3 separate regions of the Homo sapiens genome follow, and regions 1 and 3 are each linked to region 2. Evidence: fine-mapped expression QTL. A gene starts in region 2. Each other region holds a variant in brackets. All regions are shown on one strand. Distances are between the middles of the regions. Region 1 overlaps PCGF3 (polycomb group ring finger 3). Region 2 holds the start of CPLX1 (complexin 1). Region 3 holds the start of LOC105374339 (a long non-coding RNA gene).

Region 1 (8,000 bases), 70 kb after region 2:
GACCCGGAGTCCGGAAGGAGAACAACTCGGGAGAGGGGCCGCGCGGGGAGAAAGACCCGGAGTCCGGAAGGAGAACAACTCGGGAGAGGGGCCGCGCGGGGAGAAAGACCCGGAGTCCGGAGCGAGAAGAGCTCGGGAGAGGGGCCGCGCGGGGAGAAAGACCCGGAGTCCGGAAGGAGAACAACTCGGGAGAGGGGCCGCGCGGGGAGAAAGACCCGGAGTCCGGAAGGAGAAGAACTCGGGAGAGGGGCCGCGCGGGGAGAAAGACCCGGAGTCCGGAGCAAGAAGAGCTCGGGAGAGGGGCCGCGCGGGGAGAAAGACCCGGAGTCCGGAGCAAGAAGAGCTCGGGAGAGGGGCCGCGAGGGGAGAAAGACCCGGAGTCCGGAAGGAGAAGAACTCGGGAGAGGGGCCGCGCGGGGAGAAAGACCTGGAGTCCGGAAGGAGAAGAACTCGGGAGAGGGGCCGCGCGGGGAGAAAGAACTGGAGTCGGGATGGAGAAGAACTCGGGGGAGGGGCCGTGCGGGGAAAGACCCGGAGTCTGGAGGGAGAACTCGGGAGAGGGGCCGCGTGGGGAGAAAGACCCAGAGTCCGGAGCGAGAAGAGCTCGGGAGAGGGGCCGCACGGGAAGAAAGACCCGGAGTCCGGAAGGAGAAGAACTCGGGAGAGGGGCCGCGCGGGGAGAAAGACCCGGAGTCCGGAAGGAGAAGAACTCCGGAGAGGGGCCTCGAGGGGAGAAAGACCTGGAGTCCGGAGCGAGAAGAACTCGGGAGAGGGGCCGCGCGGGGAGAAAGACCTGGAGTTTGGCGGAAGAAGTGAGAAGCAGGGAGAAAGGGGGTGCCCGGTGAGAGCCGCGGTGGGGGTGCTTGTGCAGGGAGGGGCACAGACTTACAGTGACTTTGGACTTTTTTTTTTTTTTTTTTTTTTTTTTTGAGACAGAGTCTCCCTCTGTAGCCAGGCTGGATGCCGTGGCACGATCTCGGCTCACTGCAACCTCCGCCTCCTGGGTTCAAGCGATTCCGCTGCCTCAGCCTCCCGAGTAGCTGGGACTACAGGCGCGCACCATCATGCCCGGCTAATTTTTTTGTATTTTAGTAGAGACGGGGTTTCACCAAGTTGGCCAGAATGGTCTTGATCTCCTGACCTCGTGATCTGCCCACCTCGGCTTCCCAAAGTGCTAGGATTACAGGCGTGAGCCACCGCGCCGGGCCAACTTTGGATTTCTAAAAATGTAAATAGTTTATACATTTTGTAACCACTAGTATAACAGAAGTAGAGCTTATACCTTGCAAACCAGAGGAAGAAAGAAAGAGATTAAAGAAAGTTACTAATTCACTAGACAACAGGGAGGAAGGAAGCATTAGGAAAAAACTGACGAAAAGAGCAAAATAAAAAAATAAAGCAGGAACCAACTCACATCCTCCATGGAAAATCGTGGAATGTGTAAGGTAACGTGCCAGCTAAAAAAGTTTGATTTTTTTAAAAAACCTAGCTCTACGTTGTAAACAGTGTCACATTTAAGACATTTTAAGAACAGAAATATCACACAAGTATTCACCAACAGAAAGCTGGCATAGCTAGATTAGTATGTCATGGGACTTTAAGAAATAGAGCTTAATGAGGAAGAAGCCCCCCAAAGACGAGAAACGTTTCTATACGGGAACACAGCTGGTGACAAACGCACGCCAACAGAATGGCCATGGTGGGCTTCACGTCTCTATAAGCAGCGGACGCACCCTGCCCTCAACAGGCAGCCGCCGTCTCCGACTCAGGGAACAGGTGTGCCAGCCACGCAGGCACAGGTCTGAGGCAGCGGGGTCTGCAGTGCATGGGGCCCGCAGGGCAGCAGGAAGGGCTGCACAGATGAACGCGGGCCTGCATGCACCTGCGGGAAAACGCAGACACACATGGGCGGGGGTGGGAGTGGGGGGGATTGTGGAAGGAAAACAAGAAGAAAATATGTTTACGTTTGCTCAGATTTGCATACATACAGGAGGTGATCACAGTGGTTCTCTATAGGTCACTACAGACAGCGGCAGAGATGAGAACAAAATTAAACCTTTTCAATAATACTAACCTCAGGACTGAACGAATTACCTATTTAAATACACTAAGTTACAAGCATGCTTCTAATTTTTAGGCTTTATTATGGCACAGTTTACACACACCTCTTTTATGTATATAATGCAATAATTTTCCGTAAATTCACAGACTTTCTCGATCATCGCCATGGCAGTCTCAGATGGTTTCCATCACCTCAGAGCCCCCGGCAGGCCCCTCTGCGATCTAACCCTGCTGGGGGAGCGGGGTGGGGAGTGAGTGTTTAATGGGGGCAGAGCTTCAGTTTGGGAAGATAAAAAGGCTCTGGAGATGATGGTGGTGGTGGTGGCTGTGTAACACTGGGTCTGTACCCAAGGCCACTGAACCACACACCTGAAAATGGTTAAAATGGCATATTTTATGTGCATGTAACACAATTTAGAAAGCTGGTTAAAAAAAACATGAAAATTCTAGAATTATTTTAATAAGAACCAAATTATGAAGCTGGAAACTAAAGGAATGTTCAACTCTAGAGTTTAGAAAAGAGCCGGGTGCAGTGGCTTACACCTGTAATCCCAGCACTTTGGGAGGCTGAGGCGGGTGGATCATTTGAGGTCAGGAGTTCGAGGCCAGACGGGCCAACATAGTGAAACCCCGTCTGTAATAAAAATACAAAAATTAGCTGGGCATGGTGGTGCGTGCCTGTAATCCCAGCTACTCAGGAGGCGGAGGTGGGAGACTCACTTCAACCAGGGAGGTAGAGGTTGCAGTGAGCCGAGATTGCACCCCCACACTCCAGCCTGGGCGACAGAGTATAAGACTACATCTCAAAAAAAAAAAAGCCAAGTGCGGCGGTGGCTCACGTCTGTAATCCCAGCATTTTGGGAGGCTGAGGCGGGTGAATCACCTGAGGTTAAGAGTTCAAGACCAGCCTGATCAACATGGAGAAACCCCGTCTCTACTAAAAATACAAAAAATTAGCTGGGTATGGTGGCATGTGCCTATAATCCCAGCTACTCTGTAAGGCTGAGACAGAAGAATCGCTTGAACCCGGGAGGTGGAGGTTGCGGTGAGCCAAGATCAGGCCTTGCACTCCAGCCTGGGCAAGAGGGAAACTCCATCTCCAAAAAAAAAAAAAAAAAAAAAAAAAAAAGGACAATTCTGAAGAAGAAAAATGAGGAGGGGTATGTACTCTCCCAGAAGACCACAACTTAATGGTAAAATAAATCATTGCAATTCAGTAAGTTCCTTGTTGTTTTGGCACAATGGGAGACAAGAGACCAGCGGAACAGAGCAGAGAGCCCAGGGGGACCTGAGAGTGTGGAAACTTGGCAAAGTTGAACTCCACCTTGTCCATTCTACACACAAGGTCAACTGCAGGGGCTTACAACCCAACTAAAAAGCAAACCTTTAAAATATTTTACAAGACAATGTAAGAGAATGTATTTATGACCTTAGAATGGGGAAACATTTTTAAGATTCAGAAGAAAATACCGATACATTTAATTATGTCAAATTTTAAAACTGTGGATGATGATAGGTCGAAGAAAGCCGACAGCCGCAGAAGGAAAGACGATCCCTGCAGTGAGCGTGGGGCGGCGAGGGAGGAGGTAGCCCTGCAGCTCACATAAGGAAAAGTCAGTCTTCCCAGGACAGAGATGGGCAAAGAACAAGTAAGCAACTCACACGCAGAGGAGCCCAGAGACGTGCGATGAGTCGCTGGACACCCCACACACAGGAGACTGGAATCAGAAATAACACAGATACCGTGGAACACACCTGCCCAGGGGGACAAGTGCAATGTCTTAGAAGAGTGATGGGCTGGTCACCACCTAAAAGTCTCCAGTATTAGATGGGAAATTAAGTGTAAAAAAGTCACAGCGTAACAACACGTGCCACGCACACAACGCCGTGTGCTCTGCGACACCAC[G/A]CGGGCCTGTGTGCACACAGCAGTCACCATCAAGCGGGTACGTTACACACCTCGAAATGCAACTCTGATTGTAAAGAGGGCACTGCAGAAAGACCTGTCGCTGTCTATGGCTACACATCGGCCTGCCTGGGAACACTGAGCTCCTTGTCCACCTGGAAGTGAAAAAGAGCCCAAGATCTGCCATCTGCATCTGGATCACCAGCGAATCCTGCAGGCTCCCTCCCTTTTAAATATGCCCCAAACCCAGTGCTGCACCCGCACCGCCACCTGCCTGGGCCTCTGGCTCAGACGCCTGCCTGGTCTCCGCATGGCCACCCTGGCCGTGCAGGCAGCTCACTGCAGAGCAGCTGCGCTAAGTGGCAACCCTCTGGGGATAAAGCCACGCCAGGCTGCATCCCACAGCACACCCCGATCTCACATCCCAACTGCCTCATCTCCCTCCTCTGGGTGAACAGCAAGTTCTCGCCACAGGCCCCCAAGGTCCCCAACCTCACCTCCAGCCTTACCCGTTCACTCTGCCCCGGACTCACCACCCACGGCACGTGGGGCAGCCTGGCACCAGGTCCCAGCTCACTACCTCCTGCCTCACCTCTACAGTCCAGGAGAGGCTCTTTCTACCCTCCGCCCCTTCTACCTCCAGGGGCTCTGGCCTGGATGGGTGGGCTCTCCGCTCCCCACCAGCCAACCCTCACCACGCCGGCTGCGAGGCCCTTGCAGGCAGAGCCCACTTCCAGCAGGCGTGCAGCAGGAGCAGGTGACCGGCTCTCGGGTGTGAAGTCCCAAGAGCACAGCGCGTGCCCGAGGGTGCGGACAGGAGCCAGTGGGCCAGGGAGGCACAACTCGGAGGAGTGAAAACAAACCACATTTCCAGCTCCAGACACAAGAGCCATTGGAGCCTCTGGAGGGCGGCAGGGACCCCACACCAGAACCCCCAGCCTGCTCAGGGTATAGGAGCCATTTCCCCTGTTTCTGGTGCTGGGACATCACACCCACCAAGTCAACAGGCCCGGTAAGGGTTTCCTAACTCTGCACGAGCGAAGATGAGCAGAGACCACACCAGCCCTGCAGTCCCACTGGGTCTGTGGGTGCCAGGACCACCAAAGACGGAGGCGACTCCTGCCAGGACCCAGAACGCCCCTGAAGTCCACTGGGCAGCTGCTCGCTCCAAGGGAAGCTGAATGTAGGGTTCGTAGAAGGTCAGAGTCTCGCTCTTGTTACCCAGGCTGGAGTGCAGTGCCTCGATCTCAGCTCACTGCAAGTTCAAGCGATTCTCATGCCTCAGCCTCCGAGTAGCTGGGATTACAGGCACCCACCACCATGCCCGGCTAATTTTTTGTATTTTAGTAGAGACGGGGTTTCACCTTGTTGCCCAGGCTGGTCTCGCACTCCTGAGCTTAGGCAATCTGCCCGCCTCAGCCTCCCAAAGTACTGGGATTACAGGCGTGAGCCACCGTGCCTGGTCCAGTCTTCTTTTTTTTTTTTTTGAGACCGGACTCTCGCTCTGTCGCCCAGGCTGGAGTGCAGTGGCGTGATCTCGGCTCACTGCAAGCTCTGCCTCCCGGGTTTACGCCATTATCCTGCCTCAGCCTCCGAGTACAGGTGCCCACGACCACGCCCAGCTAATTTTTTGTATTTTTAGTAGAGATGGGGTTTCACTGTGCTAGCCAGGATGGTCTTGATCTCCTGACCTTGTGATCCGCCTGCCTCGGCCTCCCAATATGCTGGGATTACGGGCGTGAGCCACCGCACCCGGCCAAGAGTCTTCTTAAACATTAAGTTCTAGGCCAGGTACAGTGGCTCACACCTGTGGTCCCTACTCGGGAGGCTGAGTTGGGAGAAGCACTTGAGCCCAAGAGGTCGAGGCTGCAGGGAGCTGAGATTGCACCACTATACTCCAGCCTAGGCAAGAAAGTAAGATCCTGTCTCAGAAAAATAAAAAAGCTCTAAAGTTCTGTTCTAACTTCCTTGCCATTTGCTCCGGGGCTTGTCAGCTCTGGGAGAGAAGGTGCCCATGCCCTCTCCTGGGCCACCTGGCAGCTCAGGTGTGTGAGCCATCAGCACCCAGAGGGGCCTCCAGTGAGGGCCGGGATCTGTCTCCCACTATCCAGGTAATGGAGCTAATCTCAAACACAAACCTTTGTGGTTCGACAGAGGACAAAGCCTACTGAAGTGAGAGAAGAGTTTCATCAGGGACGTGTTCAGAAGAGCCCTGGACAGACGGGCACCAGGAGGGCACTGGCAATCCCGAGGCTCTGAAAACGAAGATGGGCGGAGGCCGAGTGTTTGGATCTGACAGGGGCCTGAAGGCGGCGGGAATCTCTGGGGTTGCCCTGGCGGGGTCACAGCCACGCGCAGGCCCCTCCCGTCTGCCCAGCCTCAGTCTGGTGGGAAGACCCCGGGGGCCTGGAACCGGAGGAGGCTGCACACACAGGGGTCGAAGTCCATGTAGAGCCCCTGTATCCCCAAGACTGCATGGCCCCCCACCCCCGAGTCCCAGCGGACACTCAGGACCCCAGCTCAGGGCAGCAGGCCCGTCCCCCACCTCACTCCTTATCCACAAACCCCACCCTTGCCCGCCCGGTCCCCGGAGGCCTCAGGATGCCCACGCAAAGCCAGGCTCTGGAAGCAGCAGCTGGGGGAAAAGAGCGGAACAGCTGTGGCCGTGCATCCATGAAACCCGCCGGCTGCTCCCAAAGAAGTCAGGCTCCAGAAAGGAGAGTTCTGGAATTAAACAGACCGATGGCTTATACTTAAAAAAAGATGAGAGCAAAAAACAGCTGTGAAGCAAATGAGTCACCTGAGGCTAACCAAGAGGCTTCTGGCTGTGAAAGGAATGGGGTCACACAGAGAAGGTGGCAGATGCAGGGACTGCGGGAGGCAGAACTGAGAGGAGAAAGAACGACCAGGGACCTCAGGAGGGAACAGCAAGGGCAGTGGAAGAGGCGGCTTCGCCAGTTTCCAAACTCCCAAGGTCAAGTGTGGGAAACGCCATTCACCTGTGCAGGGGGCACCATCTTCCAGGAGGATCCCCATCCCCTCCCTCGGAAAACAGAAAGAAAGGCCCCGTCAAGTATTTTTGGTTTAGAAGACATCGTTGTGAGTAAATAAACCCGACACGCTTTTGCGTTGCTCAGCGATGACTAAACTTGCCTCTCTCAGGAAGATTCAGAGGAGCCACCAGTCCCAGGAGGCCTGTGCCTTGAGGCTGAGTGCCCACCAGTGGGGGTGGCAGCGAGGGGGCCTGCGCCCGTCAGATGATGGAGAAGAGGTCGGCTGTGAAGCCAGCGCGGCCGGCTGATGCCACCCTGAGCCTCGGCTGCTCTGAGTTGGCTGCTGAACAAACCTAGAGCTGGAGCCCAGCCAGGGGTGGGAGGGCCAGAGCCTCCAGGCACAGGCACAGCATCCACAGCTTCATGCCCTTTGGAGGGGCCACCGGGGGAGGGCACAAGGCTGAGAGCAGAAACATGGGCCTGGGTGGCAGGTGCTTCCCTCATATGTTTTTTTTTTTTTAATGCTTAGTATTAAAAGCACAGAATTTAATCAGTTCATCCGAGTGACTGAGGAGGGCTTAAGAGTTAAGAGAAGAAACGACTGTCTCTGGTGTGAGGGGGACAACACACAGCCCGTGACCGGCAGGAGCTCAGGGGCCACCGCACTGGGCTCAGAAGTGACGTGCGGACGTGGCGAAGCACAAATCCAAACACACCAGGAAGACACCAGAAACGGCCACAAAACCCATGCAACCTCCCGTTAAGCCTAAATAACTATAACGTCGCATCAAAACTTCAGTAAGATGAAGAAGCGATTCCTAGAATAAAATTAGTGTGAAATAAAATTTTAAAATTACCCAAAACAATCTGGAACAAACCCTCGGATGACTTCCCAAGTTTTGGAAGACGGAGATCAGGAACTCATCACGAAGTTATAGACGCGGATAATCCCACAAACGGACACGGAATCCAAGTTTAAGGGCAGCCACAAGAAGAACAGAAAGAGAATGCAAAATTCCCAAACCATTAGAGCAGAGAAAGAA
Region 2 (8,337 bases):
GTTTGTGTTTGAAGGTTCTGGGTGGGTGCTGTGGGCCGGATCCACACATGCGGTGTGGCAGAGCGCTGCCCTCCTGCTGGGCCCATGGGGGACATGGCCCCCTGGCCACACCCCACGCCAGGACTGAAGGCCAACCCCAGGAAACCCTGACAGTGCTTCCCAGACCCTTTCCTGGCCCAAGGCAAGGAGGATGCCTGGCACCCAGGAGGGCTATGGGCAGATGGGACCCAGAAGATGGGAGCAGGGTGGCAGTGGAGGCCTTGGCAGGGGCTTCCAGAGAGGCTAGAGCTGGAGGTTGCAGCAGGGCAGCTGCCTCCTTTCCCTGCTGTCTGGAGTGACCCCGCAGGGTCTCAAACCCAGTGCCACATGGTCCTCACACAGTCCTGCTTTGTGCTCCTGGGGTCCCTGGCCTCACTGGGGCTGGGGATGGAGCATCTGAGGAGCAGAGGGCTGGCTGGGCCGGGGGTACCATCCATGTCCAACCGGCTGGCACAGGCCCCACAGCCAGGGCTCGGCCCAGCCAAGCACTCACACTTCTCCAAGCTGACCTCTGGGGGAGCCCTCGTTGGAGCTCCATCCTGCTCCTCCCGGACTTGCTCCACACCCCACCTCCTCCTTCTCCCAACATCCGCCTGGACGGGGTGGCCTCCAACTCTTCCCCGGCCTGCAAAATGTTTTCCCTGCCTGGATCTTCAACCTGGCCTTCAACCTGCTGGCCCCTTTCTCACTCAGCTCCTGCCCCTTTCCAGCCGGCTGGAGGTCTGCGGGGCTTCTTCTCCAGGGCTCAGGGCCTCCTCTGGGCACTCGAAGGGCCAACCGCACCTGCCCTGGTGTGGCCAAGTGGCCCGTGGGGGTTGGCAGAGGCCTTTTGCCGCGTCACCACCTTCTGCCACTGGAACGGAGCCTGGGTGGCTCCTGGCCAGCAGCCTGTGACTCCCATCCCAGCTGGGCAGCCCTGGCCTGGCTCACACACCCTGAGTGGGCACCACCCTGAAGCCCTCCAGCAGATGCCCACTTTCCCTTCCCCTGGCCCAGCTCACACACCCTGAGTGGGCACCACCCTCAACTCCTCCAGCAGATGCCCACTTTCCCTTCCCTAGGCCACTTGTCACTCTGACCTGGGGCTGTCACCAACCTTGTCTATTTCCCCCAAGTTGTGGCTGGGCCCCCCCACCCCCAGGTTAGGGCCTAGACAAGTGTGAGAGCTGAGAAGCAGTCACTGCATGTGTGGCTGGATGTAACAAGTAACAACAGGGACAGGCAGAGACAGAGAGAGACGGACACAGAGAGACAGAGACAGACACAGAGACAGAGAGATACAGCGACAGAGAAAGAAAAGACAGAAAGACAGAGACAGAGATAGAAAGAGACAGAGAGACAAAAAGACACAGAGACAGATACAGTGACAGAGAAAGACAGAGACAGAAAGATAGAGACAGAGAGACGGGCAGAAAGACACAGTGACAGAGAGATACAGCGACGGAGAAAGAGACAGAGAGAGAGGCAGAGGAAGACAGGGCAGAACGTGAGGGCTGGCAGAGGGTCTCTGTCCTCTGTGCCCCAGGCCCCAGCTCCAGGTGTGCTTGGAGCTCAGGCTGGCCTGGGTTGTAGAACGGGGAGGGGTCAGCCTAGGAGTCCAGTGCTTCTGCTCGGAAGAACGGGCACCTCCCTGCACTCCTGTGCAGACTGTCCCAAAGGCACCAGCATATCCCTTGCATGCAGCTTGTGGAGGTGGCAGGGTCAGTCATGAGCCTGGCTCTGGGCTCAGGGGGTCACCCCTGGGGTCCTCTCTGGGGTTACTGTCCGGGTTAGCTGTTGGGTTATCCACCCAGTTAGGGATGGAGAGAGAAAGCACCAGGGCCGAGAAGTGACCTCTTTCTTGGACCCGAACATCTCACCCTTGCTGTCCCCTCCCAGGTCCTGAGGAGACTAGAGGAGCAGATGGAGCAGAGCAGGCTGGGGCTCAGGCCGGGCCCCCAGGCATGTGTCCTGCCTCCTGTCCCTGGGCCCAACGTTCTGAGCCCACTTGGCTCAGATCCCGGGAGAGAGGAAGGGACGGTGCTGGGGGTGCCCATGGCTTCCAGCCAGGGAGGCTGAAGAGACCCCAATCCTAGGGCATGGGTCCCCCTCTGGGAGGTTGCCTGTGAACCCCCAGGCCCACGGGACCCTCATGGCTGTCTCAGGGAGCCCCCATGGGCTTGGCCCTGGTGCCTTCACCCTTCCCTCTCCCCCAGCGCTCCCTTCCTCTGCGAAGGGTCCCCTGCCAAGTCAGCAGAAGAGTGGGGACGGGGGCAGAGGCGCTGGGGCCAAGGCTGGGAGTCCAGGCCTCTGAGTCCTCCTGAGCTCAGGCTAAACACGGGGCACCGGAGGGGATGGGGCTGAGGGCGGGGGAGGGGCCGCATCTTCCCTGCGCCAGGGGAGTCCCCAGGACTCAGCAGGGAGGGGACAGTGACAAGTTAGTGCGGCGGCCACCGGCAGCGGCCCCCCTCCCCCCTCCCCACCCCCACCCCGCCAGGAGCACAGGGCAGCTCTAGGGTCGCGGTGCGCCCCATCCCTCCCGCCGCCTGGCTCCCGACACTGCACAGCGCGAACCGCAGGGCCGACCTTGCGGCGACCCCGCTCTCCCGCAGTGCCGCGTCCGCTGCAGAGGAAATCCCGGGGGCCAGGGGAGGGAGCGGTGGGGTCTCTGGCCTTCGTCCCGGTAAAGGAAACAGCGACTCCGTTACACCGAAAGTGAGCCCGGGCCGGCCTGCGGGTCTCTGGCTGCGAGGGGCTTGCGTGGGTTTTCAGGGGTCTGGGGGCCCCCTTCTCCCGCCCTGCGATACGGGGAGGTCGGGGCAGAGGGGTCGGGGCGGCGGGCGGCGCTCAGGGACACGGTCACCGGAGAATGGGGGCGGCAGCGACTCCCAACCCCTGGCCCCTCCGCTCGGGAGGCAGCGACTTCTCCGCCCGAGGGTTTTGCACCCACCGGCCCCGCGCGGACCCTGTAGGGAGCAGGCCCGCACCGTCGGGCTGGGGGCGGGGGGGCAGAGCCGGGGGCGCCCAGATCAGGGGCGGGCGGGGGTCGCAGGCGCCCGCCGGGGGAAGGTCGAGCCCGGGCCGGGTTGGAGGGAGGCGGGGGCGCGTCACTCGGGTCCACCCCCGCCCCCGCCCCCGGGTCCACCCCCGCCCCCGCCCCGGGTCCACCCCCCGCCCCCGCCCCCGCCCCCCGCCCCCGCCCCCGGGTCCACCCCCGCCCCCGCCCCGGGTCCACCCCCCGCCCCCGCCCCGGGTCCGCCCCCCGCCCCCGCCCCCCGCCCCCGCCCCCGGGTCCACCCCCCGCCCCCGCCCCGGGTCCACCCCCCGCCCCCCGCCCCCGGGTCCGCCTCCGCCCCCGCCCCCGGGTCCACCCCCGCCCCCGCCCGGCGCCCGCGGCCCCGCCCCTCGGCGCTCCCCTCCCCGTGCTCGTCACGCTCGGACGCGGGCGGGGGGCGGGGAGCGCCTGCGAGTGACGCGCCCTCCTCGCGGTGCCCTTCAGCCGCCGCCGCAGCTCACCGGGCGCCACATGGACCCAGCCGGCCCGAGCGCGCCCCGCCGCTGACCGCCCGCGCCCCGGGAAGGTAACCGCGCCCCGAGCGCAGCGCGCGCCCGGCCTCCGCTCCCCGGGTCTCCCCTCCCGGCCCCGGCGTCTCCTCCCCGGCCCCCGCTTCTCCCCGCTTCTCCCGCCGGCCCCGGTTTCTCCTTCCCGGCCCCCCTTCTCCCCGCGGCCCCGGCTTCGCCCAGCTCCTCCCCCCGGCCTCCGCTCCCCGGGTCTCTCCTCCCCGGCTCCGGCTTCTCCCCCCGGCTCCGGCCTCTCCCTCCGGCCCCCGTTTCTCCCCCCGACCCCGGCTTCTCCCCGCAGCCCCCGTTTCTCTCCCGGGCTCCGCGCGCGCGGGGTCCGGGGCGGGCGCTGTCCACTGCCGCGGTGCTGAAGCGGCCCCCGCGGTCCCGGCCCGCGCCCGGCCTCCTCCTCGCTTCTTCCTGTCTCGAGGCTCCCCCTCTCCTCCCTCGCCCTCTTTCTTTCCTCTCCTGGCGCGCTCCCGCCTGAGGGCCGCTCGCCCGCCCGCAAAGCCGAGGGGTGCGGGTGCGGCGGGGCCGGAGCCCTGCGGGTCTGCGGGGCCCGGCCGTGCCCTCCTTCCCCGCGCCGCGGGAGCCAGGGGAGAAGTTTGGAGGAGAATCGGCGCTGCGGCAAAGCCTCCGAGGGGCGCTCCCCGCCCGCCGCCCTCCCAGTCCCCGCGCGAGTCTCCTTCCTCTGCGGAGGGCGAGGGGTGAACCGTCAAACAGTGTCTCTCCAGGGACCTGGGGTTCCCCGATAGGAGAGACCCCGCAAAACCGGGGGGCTCACTGCGGCTGCTGTGATTTCAGAAAGCGGCTTCCCAAGAGGGGACCAGAGCGCCCCACCCCACCCCATGCACGCCCCCGGGGCGGGGGTGCTCTGTCCCCGTCCCCACGTGTTTCCTGAAGGCTGAGCCCCCTGAAGTTTCTCCCCAACCCCGATCTCTTCTACGCGGGCCATGTGGGGGGCACACTGACTGCAGTGCCGTCAGGGATAGGGTCACCCAAGCCTCCCTGGTCAGAAGCCACAGGAGCCCGCCCTGAAGGGTACCCGCTCAAAGACCCACCCCCAACCCTTCTCCACGGCCCTGGGCTCGGGACCACCGCGGAGGCGCCGCTCCAGACACTGAGCTGCAGAGCGGAGCAGTCACCTTCAAACGCCCCCTGGGCCCCGCCCCTGCTTCCGCAGCCTGGCGCCAGGCGCCTCTGAGCGATGCCCCCTAAGCCATCAGCAGCCCTCCCTGCAGAGGCTTCAGACACCCCAGGAGCTGGGGAGACCATTTTCAGGTCCTCTGGGGTCCTGGTTTGGGTGTGGGGACAGAAGCCCCTCACGAAGGACTTCCCAGGCAGCCGCTCCAGGTGGGGGAGGGTCCAGCCCACAAGGTATTGCGGGTAAGGAATGATGGTCTCTGGGGAAGGCCAGGCAGGGGCCTGCTTAGGGTGACCTGTGACCACTTCACTCTCCCCCAGGAAGAACACTCGCTCCCGGCCATACTTGCGTGTGAGTTCTGACCCCTGGAGGAGCCACTGTGGAAGCAGAGCAATCGCCATGGAGTTTGTGATGAAGCAGGCTCTAGGAGGTAGGAAGCGGGAGGTGGGGTGGGGAGGGGCTGAGGGGACATGGAGAGACCACCACAGCAGCTGCTCCTCATCTGGCCCACCGCAGCAGCGCCCCTGCAGCCACACGGCCACCCACGCAGCCCTGCACAGGAGCCTGGGGCAGAGGAGCAAGGACCGTGCCCAGCAGCGCCCCCAGCCCGGCCCTTTTCGAGGCCCCGAGCCAGAACTGGTGTTCCTGGCGGGACAGGGGCTGCCCTGTAAGCTCACTCTGCCCCACTGCTGTGGTCGGGGCAGAGCCCATGGACCATGCTGATGCACGTCCTGGGGGAGGGTGCACACTCTGGCGTAGGCTTTACAGGGCCAATTCTAACTGGCCAGGCTGGGCAGCCCCCAAGGGGGCTTCCTTCCAGATGAGGAGAGCCAAGCGGTGGGAGAGCAGGATGCAGGTGGCAGCCTCAGGGACAGGCGTGGGGACAGAGCTGGCCTGTGCATCTGGCGAGGACCCTGTGGGTTTCACTTGGGTGAGGCAGCGCCATCCTCAGGGACCAGGGCTTGCTGGTTACGGGAGCGAAGGAAAAGGCCCGAAACAGCTTGTGTGTCTCGACTGCCTCCCAGGCGGGACGTGCAGCCTTTTTTGTGTGTACTGGGGTGGGGCCAGGCCCCCTTCCAACCTGCTGTCTGCTATTTGAAAGGAACCTCGTCCCCACTTGACCCAAGGCTGTCATTGTGGCCAGAGACCATGTCAAGAGCAGTGGCTGGGTTCCTAGACCAGGAGGTGGGCAGGGCCTGGGCCATGCTGGTACAGACGTGTCCCGGCAGAGCTGATGGGTCAACTCAGGCCTCGGGGCTGTCGTGGCGAGTCTCAGTTTTGCCCAGAGCCGTCCATCCTGTGTTCCCCCAGCACCAGTGCCCAGAACTCCTGTGAGGGGAACCTGTGGCCGGTGCCCGATTCTACCACTAGAGACGTCTTGCTTGGGTGGCCTCCACGGGGGAGCACCCTCACCTGATGCCATTCACACCTTGGAGTGAGTCAGGCCTCCTGGGAGCATTTCTGCAGTGGGGGAGCTGGCCGGGTTCGAGGGGCCAGGGACAAGGGTGTACAGAGGGCAGGCGCCGCTTCCCCCAGGGCAGGAGCTGCCTGCCTGGCTGTCTCCCGGAGGGTGGCTGTGCTTCCACTCAACACAAATTAAATGAAAAGATATTGAGCCTGTCCTGGGGCCACATCCCTGAGATTTCGTGGTCAAGGGTAAGAGTCAGGTTGAGTCTAATTATAATGGCTGCGTCACCGGGCTGTGATTCAGGGACAAGCCTGCATCTGCGCTGGGAGGGACGCACGTTCCACCCAGGGAGTCCCAGGCTGTTACGGATAATTAATTAGTTGGCTAATTCAGGCCCTGAGGTGGGCTTGTAAGAAACTGAAATATCTTATTTGGCTGTCTACATGACTGAAATTAGCTGGGTAATTACCAGCCTGAATTCCCTTTTTGTTTCATGGCAGCCCAAAGTTTCTCCAGCAGCAGCAACCGGGCAGGCGTCGCTCAGCGTGGTGGAGCTGAGCGGGGGCAGCCAGCAGACCCTGGGGGGGCTCCACGCTGAGTGCTTCCCAGAGCACCCCACATTGGCTTTGCAGAGCACGTTGAGGCTCGGAGCCAGAGCTGCTGAGGGCGGGAGCTGGTGGGGGGCTTCCAGTCGAGACCTTGTTTTCTGCCTCTGCGCCTCTGTCCCTCACCCGGCGAGCCTCATTGTTGCTGTCTCAGGATGCGTGTGAGTGAGACAGAGCAAGACAGAGATGGGAAATGGGGGAACCTCCAGACAGCACGACAGAGCTTGGCAGAGACCCCAAGAGAACTATTGAGAAACAGACCAAGCCCCGGACACAAAGAAGCTGGCAGGAGAGGGAGCAGGAGGCACCCAGGAAGCCGTTCAAAGAAAGGCGAACCCAGAAACAGGGTCGGGGAGGGGGAGCTGGAGAAAGAAAATGACAGCCCAGAAACAGACAGAGAAAAAGACAAGAATGTGTTATTCAGCACGCACAGGGACAGACAGGTGAAAACAGAGACGGCACGTCAGAGACAGAGGCAGAGGGGAGAGAGAGAAAGAGGGAGAGACGGAGACAGAGATAGAGGGAGACACAGAGACAGAGGGAGACAGAGACAGGGAGAAACAGAGACAGGGAGAGATGGGAGCAGAGGGAGAGACAGAGGGATACAGAGAGACAGACAGACAAAGGAAGAGGGCAGAGAGAGGCAGAGGGAGAGGTGGAGGCAGAAGGAGAGAGAGAGACAGAGAGAGTTAGAGAGATAGAGATGGAGACAGAGACAGAGGGAGAGACAGAGATGGGGAGAGACGGAGAATCAGAAACAGAGGGAGAGACAGTGGTGAGAGGGAGAGACAGAGACAGAGGGAGAGACAGAGACAGAGGGAGAGACAGTGGGGAGAGAGACGCATTAGAAATGAACTGCTAAGAGGAGTCAGGGCCAGGAGCGCAGGCAGCATGGCACATGCACACGTGCACGCCCGTCAGAGGGTGCAGCAGAGAGGAGGAAGAGGTGAGGACCTGCCCAGGGCTCTGGGCAGGGGGACAGGCCTGGTTAAATCAAGACCATTCGGGGGCTGTCCGCGGCAGGCTGGGCCGCAGGTGTGAGTCTTGCTGAGGAGTGAGTGGCCCAGGGCCTGCTCATCTGACCCAACGCTGGGTCTCAAGGAGGGGCCCCTGTTGGGGCCACCAAGGGAAGGGAGCATGGTGGCTGCCGGGGTGATCGCTCGTGGGGGAGCGGGAGGCTCCTCTGCAGCAAAAGTGGCCTTGAACTGGGGCCGGGCCTCCCCCCACAACACGTGGGTCCGGATCCAGGGTCCTCAAGGGAGTAATTTAAAGAAACTGGTTTCCTCAGGCCAGAAAGTTGCAAACACGGCCTGGGAGCTCTGTGGACAGCGTGGAGGAACGTGGCACGTGTGGGTGCCGTGGTCACTGCAGACCCTCATGGGGCTAAATGTGGCAGAAGCGAGCAGCCACCCGCTCTCCCATCCTCCGCCTTGATGTGACACACGCCCTGTTTAAACACGCTCAGGTCCTCGGGAATGTGTGGGGCAGGCGGGCCGGGGCTTCAGGTGGGACACGGCTTGGAGGATGCATGTGCGGAGAGGCTGGGGTGCAGAGTGGGAGGCAGCCGGACACTCAGGAGAGCCTCTGACTGCCCCAGCGAC
Region 3 (8,150 bases), 40 kb after region 2:
CAGGCGTGGCCACCTGTTGGGGTGGGGGAACCCTGCCTTCAGGCGTGGCCACCTGTTGGGGTAGGGGAACCCTGCCTTCAGGCGTGGCCACCTGTTGGGGTGGGGGAACCCTGCCCTCAGGCGTGGCCACCTGATCAGAACACCTGCTGCCTCCAGCCTCCTCTGGGCCGTGGCACCCCCCGGCATCTTGGGGGTTGGTTAGAGAAGAGACGCTGAGCTGCCCTGTCCAAGGCCTCTGTGCAGATGGGGACTGGGTCCTTTTGGAGTGTCCAGCCCCCTAGGCAGTTCCCAGAGGAGCAGCGCGCCTGCACCTCCTGTCAGGCAGCCATCTGGACAGGCCCGGGCCCAGGGAGCAGGAGGGAGACTGCCCCGCTGTGCTCCGCGCACTGACCCGCCCTTGTCCTGCATAAGCTTCCAGCCACCCATGTTGGGCAGCCCACACCTGGGCCTTCCTGCACGGGCCTTCTGAGGGCCCACTAGGCTCCCTCAATACATTGCATCCCCCTACCCCCCGCAGCTCCCACAGCGGCTAGGAGGTGTCCACCTGGTTGCTGAATGCTGGCTGTTTGGTCCTATCATTCCTATTGTTGGTTCTCAGCATTGATTAGCACCCACTGCCCTTTTTTCTCACGAATACCGTGTTTTCAGGGTTCAGGGTCTCACCTCAGACGTGTCAGGGCCTCCTGGGCGCCCCCAGCAGCCACTCCCATCCTCAGGTGTTACTTCCTGGAGAGCTGCTGCCCAGCATCACGGTGGGCCTGGGGCTGGGTGTGCCTGGGCGTTTGTCTCTGGAGCAGACGCCTCAGAACTGGGTCTCAGCCAGACCACGTGGAAGCCAGGCTCTGGTGTGCAGCCCAGCCCCGGAGCCTGTTTTCCCGGCAGAGTGACCCTGGCCCTCAGGCCAAGTCCGGCGTGACCTCAGCCTCAGAATGACCTGGAGCCTCACTGCAGCAACTGGCACTTCAGGCCAAGCTCCGAGTGTCCCACAACCTGGTGGCAGGGCCTGGGGTCTCCTTCCTGGGCCCAGAAGGAAGGATCCCACACCGTTTGCAGACAGGGTCCCACAAGCCCCAAGGGTCACTCCCCTGACCTGGGAGGTTCCTTTGCTCACACAACTCATGTTCCGCCGTTACAGGCATGCTCCTCTGAGCACACACATGTTCCTGAGTGCTTTTGCTGTGGGCAGCACAGCCTCCTGGGCTGGATACACATGTTGCCGCCACATGCACAGACCCCCACACCCCTGGCTGGAGGGAGGCTCTCTGGCCGGACCTAGCTTCCAGTGGCATCGCTCTCCCCAGCACACCCCTGGCCCCACAGGACGAAGAGCACATGCTCCCTCCACTTCCGTGCCTGGAGCTGCTGCCCTTCCCGCTGTGGATGGCTAGGACGAGAACCAATCTGCTCTTGCTGCCCCACAGGGTCAGGGCTTTGTTCTGGGCCTGCAGGGCCCTCTGGGTGTCGCCCCTGTTGTGCGGAGAACGTTCCTACCCTGTGCTCTTCGTTTCACTGAGGAGACCCCTGGAGTCCCGGCTCTGTCAAGAGTGCGCAGGGGCTGCTGAGGACTAGGGCGAGCCCACGGCCCCTCTCTCCTCAGTGGCCAGGTGGTGGTCTGGCCACAGGCGGCTGGGAACGTGGCGCCCTCCTTTCCATCTCACTGAAGGTGGCCCTGGCCCCCCACACCCAGAGCCACCTGCAGCCCTAGGGGAGGGGAGAGGTGCCGAGACTGCCCTCGGTGGGGTTGGGGAGCACACAGGCAGCCCCCCCTCCATTTGGGAGGAAGGAGGGGCCTCCTTGGAGATCCAGGGGGTGCCCAGCACCAGGAGCAGAACCAACTGCTTCTATGGGGAGGGGCTGCTGAGACAGGAGCAGGAGATGGCAGGGGAGGGGCTCCTCCTGGGCAGAAAGGCCCCTCCCTGTGGCTGGTGATCCCGCGGTGTGCTCCTCCGTCCTGTAGAGTGCTGGTGCCCACTCCCCTCCTAAGTTTTCTCCTGGACGCAGCTGCTGACGCCTTCACTACTCCAGAGCACCTGTAATCTCAGATCCAGGACCTTGGACCTGGCCCGGGGGTCCTGTTCAGGGGATGGAAGTCCAGCTCCGTACAACACCAGGCCCCCAATCCTTCCAGGCCAGCCCAACCCCACTGGTTCCCACCTTCCTGGGCAGCAGGAGGCTGTTCCGTAGTTCCGTGGCCTGACCATGACCACAGGCTTCCTGGGCTGGTGGCTCACGGGAGGGCTGGAGGAGTGTGGCGTGGGGAGGCGTATTGATCTAGAAACCAAAACCCCGGGGCCTGACAAAAACTTAGAGGCCTGGAGGGCAGAAGAACAAAATCCCACACTCCCTCTGGAGGCTCTGGGGGAGGGCCCTTCCCTGCCCCTTCCTGCGTCTGGCGGCCCCGAATCCCTGGTGTTTCTTGACCACTCGCGACCTCCTCCGCTTTCGTATGCCCGCCCCCATCCGGGTGTCTGTCCTTTCTGTCTCTTACAAGGACACTCTCACTGGACTTGAGGCCCCTCAAATCCAGGATGGCCTCGTCCCCATCCTTACCATTATGAGATCAACAAAGACCTGTTTCCGAATGAGATCACCTTTGAAGCTCCAGGCAATATGAATTTGAGGGGGACAATATTCAGCTACTACGGAGGGCAGACGCACTCACGGGAGATGAGAAACGCGGGTGGGCAGGGGGTCGGTGAGGCCCAGGCATACTGGCTGAGGGCACGACTAGGCGGGATTCCAGGACACCCAGTGCCTGGAAGTGACCGCAGCCCAGGACCCTCTGCCGGCTGCCCACGGAGCTGCAGCGGCCTGCCAGGGAGTGGCCCTGCTGGGGCCGCGGCCGCATCCAGGCAGCCTTGGCCAGGCCCGGGAGTGTGAATGCAGGTCGTGGACCAGGCACTGGGCAGGAGGGTCAGCTGCGGGTTGACTGTTTCTCCCCACCTCTGCCACGCAGCATCCTGCCCACCCCTCCCTGCCCCGGGCCGGAGGCTTCCTGGAAGGCAGGATGCCAGGGGCTGGGCTGGGTTTGGAGCCAGAGGTGGGGCCACAGCCCTCTCTCCTCTCAAGGAAGATGGGAGCCTCCCCCTCCCTGCTCCCCCCCATGTCAGCTCCTGGCCCCCATTCTCCGTGGGGGCTTCCCATTCCTCCAGGGACCCCCCGGGGTGGGGTCTCTTCTCCTTCTGGGGTCCTTGTGTGCCTGGTGGGGTAGGGGGCCGCACCCACGCCTTCGGGGGTTCCTGGGCCAGTCCCTGGCGCAGGGAGGCTGCGGCCCGCCCGGGAGCCGCCGGGACCCCCGCCCTGACCCCCGCCTCCCCCGCAGTACGGCATCAAGAAGAAGGAGGAGCGCGAGGCCGAGGCCCAGGCCGCCATGGAGGCCAACTCCGAGGGGAGCTTGACGCGGCCCAAGAAGGCCATCCCGCCGGGCTGCGGGGACGAGGTGGAGGAGGAGGACGAGAGCATCCTGGACACCGTCATCAAGTACCTGCCCGGGCCGCTGCAGGACATGCTCAAGAAGTAGCCGCGCGCGGGACAGCGGCCCCGCGGAGCCCCCGCCCCTCCCCCTACAGATCCTCCGCGGAGGCCCCTGAGGGACGAGCAGAGCGCAGCCCCCACGCCGATATAAGCCATAGCCCCAGGCCCGCCCTGCCCGCGCCCGCCGCCTCCCTCACCCGGCAAGGGGCGCGCGCCCCCAGGACCCCCCCAGTCCGCCCCGTGCTCCTCTGCCCGCGGGTGGCTGGAGCCCCATCGCCTGGGACGCCCCTTTCTCTTGCTGTTTACCGCCCACCCAGCAGCGCCCGAGGCCAGGGCCGCCGAAGGGCAGCCCCGCGACCACCCCTGTGCGCGCGTTCGCGGCGGTGGGCGCCTGTCGGGCCCGCACTCAGGAGCACAGCCATAGCAGACGGGGGGCTGCGGGCGGGGCGAGGGCGGCGGGGCCTGGGTCCCCCTCCTGCACGCGGACTCCGGGGTTCGGATCGCTCCGCCGTGAGTATTTGCGTCCGCACGCGGCCGCTCTCCGCCCCCCGGCCTGGCCCCCTCGCGCCCCTGTCCATCCGTCTCTGTCCGCGTCCTTTCCTCTCCTCTCTGGAAGGTTTTGCTTCTTACGAACGCCACGGCCGTGTTCACTTCTAAACTAAAGGAAACAAAGCAATAGGTTTGGGGGACGCCCAGCCCCCACCCCCGTCACCCCGCTCTTCCC[A/G]AGTCCTCGCCCCCCGCCCGGCCTCCTAGCCTCTCCGCCCACGCGGCTGCTGCTTCTCCCTGGGGAGGACCCCTGCCCTCGGCCATTGAACACTGCACCCTCCACAGGAGCCGCAGAGGCCCGAGGCACCGGACGCTGGAGACCCTGCGCCCCTGCCCAGCACCTCCTCCGTGGGCAGCTCCTCGGGTGGGGCCTGCGGGGTTCCCTGCGCGCAGCTGGCGCGTGTGTGGCCTAATCCACCTGGTGGCCCTGCGGGGCGGCATCCGAGCCCCTGTTTCTCCTCCATTCATGTTTAATTTGCATCACAATTTGTTGAATCTCAGGTAAATGAGGTCTTTGCATTTAATGAGTTTTATCTTGACAGGCGCCGCCTCGCCCCCGGGCCCTTTCGTCCACATCAAAAATGCATCAAGTCTCCACGTGTTTCGGGCCAGGGCGTGGCTTGGCATTGACCTTCATGACCTTACATAGCTTTAGAGAAGCCATAACGTTAGACTGCAATACTAACGACCGACGCCCCTCCGGGCAGAGACCACCGCGCCCCTCTGCGCCCCAGCGACGCGGCCCGCGGGGACGTCGCTGTCCGTCCTGCTCGCCCTGTGCCCTCTCACTGACTTCTCCCGGGTCGTGTCTTTTAAAAACTCCTGTTTTCACACCTTACAAAGCCAGCTCTGAGCAGACAGGGCGTCCTCTCGTAGAACCTGCGCACCCCGTTCCCAGCGCATGGCGCCCCGGGCCGCGAGCTTAGCTTAGACCGTGGTGTCCTCTGTCCGTCTGTCCTGCGCCTGCGCCTCCTCCTGCATGTCGGGGCCCCTGCGTGTGTTCTCTCCGGATGGAATCACAGCCAATAAACACCAGTGATTTCACACCGTGTGGCCATTCCTTCCAGAGGTCCATTTCGCCAGCCGGAGGACCGGGGCTTTCCCCCGCGCATGTTCTCTCCACGGCGGCTGCAGGGCCTCCCACCATTCTCACTCAGCTCCATCCAGTCAGACCCATTTTCCCTAGGCCGTCCAGCCAGCGCAACCTCCATCTAAACACAAACCTGCGCCTTCAGGGTCTCCCGCCCCCCAGGGTGGTTCTTCCACCCGCAAAGCATCTGCCCTCTGCTCTCCCTCCCACCTAGGACCCCCGACCACAGGCCTGTCCCTCTCCTCAGCTCCACCGGGCCCAGGGCCCCAGGTCACCCTGTGCTGCCCTTACCTCGGCCCACCCAGGAATTCCTGCCCCCCAGCACCCCCGTGGGACTGTCCCTCCTCCTGAGTCCTGGACCCGGATCCCTGCAGGGAAATGTCTGCCAACCTGGGCTGAGGCCAGAAGAGGTTCCTGACCCCAACCCAGAGAACAGCCCCTCTGCCTGGTTGCTGGCGGTCCCGCCCACACTCAATCCGCTGGATGCGCAGCCCACGCCTAGCTGCTGCCTGCCACTTGCTTCCCCAGAAAGTCCTTGTTTGACCTCCAAGTTTGGAAGCTGTTAAAAGATGATTCTGGCCAGGTGCGGTGGTTCAGGCCAGGTGCGGTGGTTCAGGCCGGGCGCGGTGGCTCACGCCTGTCATCCCAGCACTTTGGGAGGACGAGGTGAGCGGATCACGAGGTCAGGAGATGGAGACTATTCTGGCTAACAAGGTGAAACCCCATTAATACTAAAACTACAAAAAAAAAAAAAAAAAAGCTGGGTGAGGTGGCAAGCAACTGTAGTCCTAGCTACTCGGGAGGCTGAGGCAGGAGAATCGCCTTGAACCTGGGAGTCAGAGGTTGCAGTGAGCCGAGATGACACCACTGCACTCCAGCCTGGGCGACAGAGCGAGACTCCCTCTCAAAAAAAAAAAAAGAAAAAAGAAAAGAAAAGATGGTCCCGTGACACTTGTTACAGCTGAGTGAGGAAGGCTTTATTCAGGACCAGCACTACAGGTACAGGGACCATGCAACAGGGCTTGCCATGGGTGCCAAGGAGCAGGGTGGGCTCAGTGGATGGAAAATGACTGAGGAACATCAGGGGTTGGGGGATTCTGATGAAACCCATCTAACTGGATTCTAGCTGGAGACAGGCAGGGCAATCAGACAGACCCATAGGGTGGTGAAGCATGAGGACCCCAATCAGATCTCCAGGATGAAGGTTTGTTGCTAAACTGACTTAGCCAGATTCTTTGCTAAAACTGCATTTTACAAGGAAGTGGGCCAATGGGCCTACCAGAAGATTCAGGAAGTTAACTAAAGTTTGACCACACAAAAAATCTTTGTCAGGAGCCCTCTCTAGGGAGCAGCATGTCTGGGTCTCCTGTAACCTTCCTGATGCTGCTGGCTGGGAATGCCCCAGGGAGCTGCCCAGTCCCAGGGCAGGAGGGCCCCATGTGCCCTGACCCCAGGCCGGGCCCTCCTGGATGCCAGGTGGGAGCTGGGAGGGAACGTGCTCTCCTCCAAGCCCAGGGAAGGGTGTATCCAGCTCCTCCTCCTGCTGCCTCTGGGGAAGTGTGCACCCCAGGCACCACCAAATTGCCCAGGGTGATCTCTCCTCTGCCAGCTGGCCCCCCTTCCTCCTGGAACAGAAACTCAGTGTCTTTGCACCCACCCCTGTGTCCGTGGCTGCTGCCAGCTGCCCCTCAACAGGGCACCCCAACATCCAGCCACTGCTCAGCCTCCATCCTCCCCCAGCCTCCCATTTCCCATCCACAGCCTGGTCTGGACCCCCTTGCAAGCCTAAGCAGCGACTTGGACGTGCCAGGTCACGACCCAGGCAGCTTTCCCTTGGAGTCTTTTTTTTTTGAGACAGAGTCTCTCTCTGTCCCCCAGGATGGAGTGCAGTGGTGCGATCTCGGCTCACTGCAAGCTCCGCTCCCAAGTTCACACCATTCTCCTGCCTCAGCCTCCCGAGTAGCTGGGACTACAGGCACCCGCCACCACGCCCGGCTAATTTTTTGTATTTTTAGTAGAGACGGGGTTTCACCGTGTTAGCCAGGATGGTCTGGATCTCCTGACCTGGTGATCCGCCCGCCTCGGCCTTCCGAAGTGCTGGGATTTCAGGCGTGAGCCACCGCACCCGGCTCCCTTGGAGTCTAGACGAGCCCTTCCTACAGCAATGAATGCTGGGTCAGACCTGAGCTTCTCCGGGATCCAGCTCTCATCTCAGGTGACGGGGTCTGAGGCCTCCTGGGAATGGCACTCCTCCCCAGATGTTTACTGAGCCCCTGTGATATGCGCTGCTCTGTTCTAGGGGCTGGGAATACTAGTCCCTCCCTCCTGGAACTGGTTTTCCTAGTGATGGAGGACAGATGATAAACATGGAAGTGGCGGTGTTTGCCCTGGAGGAAAATCAAGCAGGACAGGGAGCAGAGAGCAATGGTTAGGGTTACTATTTCATGAGTGGTCAGGGGGCCTCTCTGTCAGAGTGACGTGCACAGACCCGGAGGGAGGCGCGTGTCCCGTGGGAGAGCATTCTGGGCAGAGAACAGCCATTCGAGAGCCAGGAGGCAGCGCTGCCTGGGTGCCACCAGCGTGGCCCTGGCCCCATGCACTGGCTGGGCACCACCCTGCCCCCGGAGTCTCCTCCTTCTGAACGTTTGACTGTATCTTGAACACAGCGGGGCCGGCTTTCAAGCTCCAGACACGGCCTCCTCCCCAGGCCAGGAAGCCCTGTCAGGCAGCAGATCCGGCCCCCTCAGCAGATCGGCCCCTCCAGAAGACCCGCCCCTCACAGCAGATCCGGCCTTCCCAGCAGACCCGCCCCCCGAGTAGATCCGCCCCTCCAGGATATCCATCTCCCCAGCAGATCCGTCCTCTCCAGCAGAACCGCCCCCAGCGGAGCCGCTCGGGCGGGGCCTCCGGGCCTGGGGAAGGGAGCGGGGACCGGGCCGTGGAAGGACCGCGCCCGCCCCTGGCCAGCCTGAGCCAATCAGCGCATGCTAGGTGGGCCGACATGATTGGCTCCTAGAGGCTCACGTGTGGAGGCCTGACC

Evidence for each region. PIP is the estimated chance that this variant, and not a neighbour inherited with it, causes the effect.
Region 1: its variant is fine-mapped to the expression of CPLX1 in whole blood (INTERVAL, PIP above 0.99).
Region 3: its variant is fine-mapped to the expression of CPLX1 in lung (TOPMed, PIP 0.94).

What each region holds. Positions count from the first base shown.
Region 1 is chr4:751,095-759,094 of GRCh38, reverse strand. All of the region lies in intron 8 of PCGF3 (polycomb group ring finger 3), which reads right to left. It overlaps LOC124900163 (chloride intracellular channel protein 6-like), which reads left to right. Exons shown (of 2, transcript XM_047416474.1): 2 at 1-8,000. The coding sequence ends at 931. Among named protein-coding and RNA genes, the nearest start is that of PCGF3-AS1, 27 kb to the left of the region's middle. The variant G/A (reference allele first, on the strand shown) is at 3,968.
Region 2 is chr4:821,308-829,644 of GRCh38, reverse strand. It overlaps CPLX1 (complexin 1), which reads left to right and starts at 3,516. Exons shown (of 4, transcript NM_006651.4): 1 at 3,516-3,599; 2 at 5,044-5,153. The coding sequence starts at 5,123. RefSeq lists a silencer at 3,497-3,546.
Region 3 is chr4:781,871-790,020 of GRCh38, reverse strand. CPLX1 (complexin 1) reads left to right here. Exons shown (of 4, transcript NM_006651.4): 4 at 3,323-5,064. The coding sequence ends at 3,520. LOC105374339 (a long non-coding RNA gene) reads right to left here and starts at 2,247. Exons shown (of 4, transcript XR_925032.4): 1 at 2,155-2,247; 2 at 664-2,058. RefSeq lists enhancers at 59-558, 1,065-1,564, 1,565-2,066, 4,039-4,910, 6,905-7,622 and 1 more and a silencer at 7,884-8,150. The variant A/G (reference allele first, on the strand shown) is at 4,199.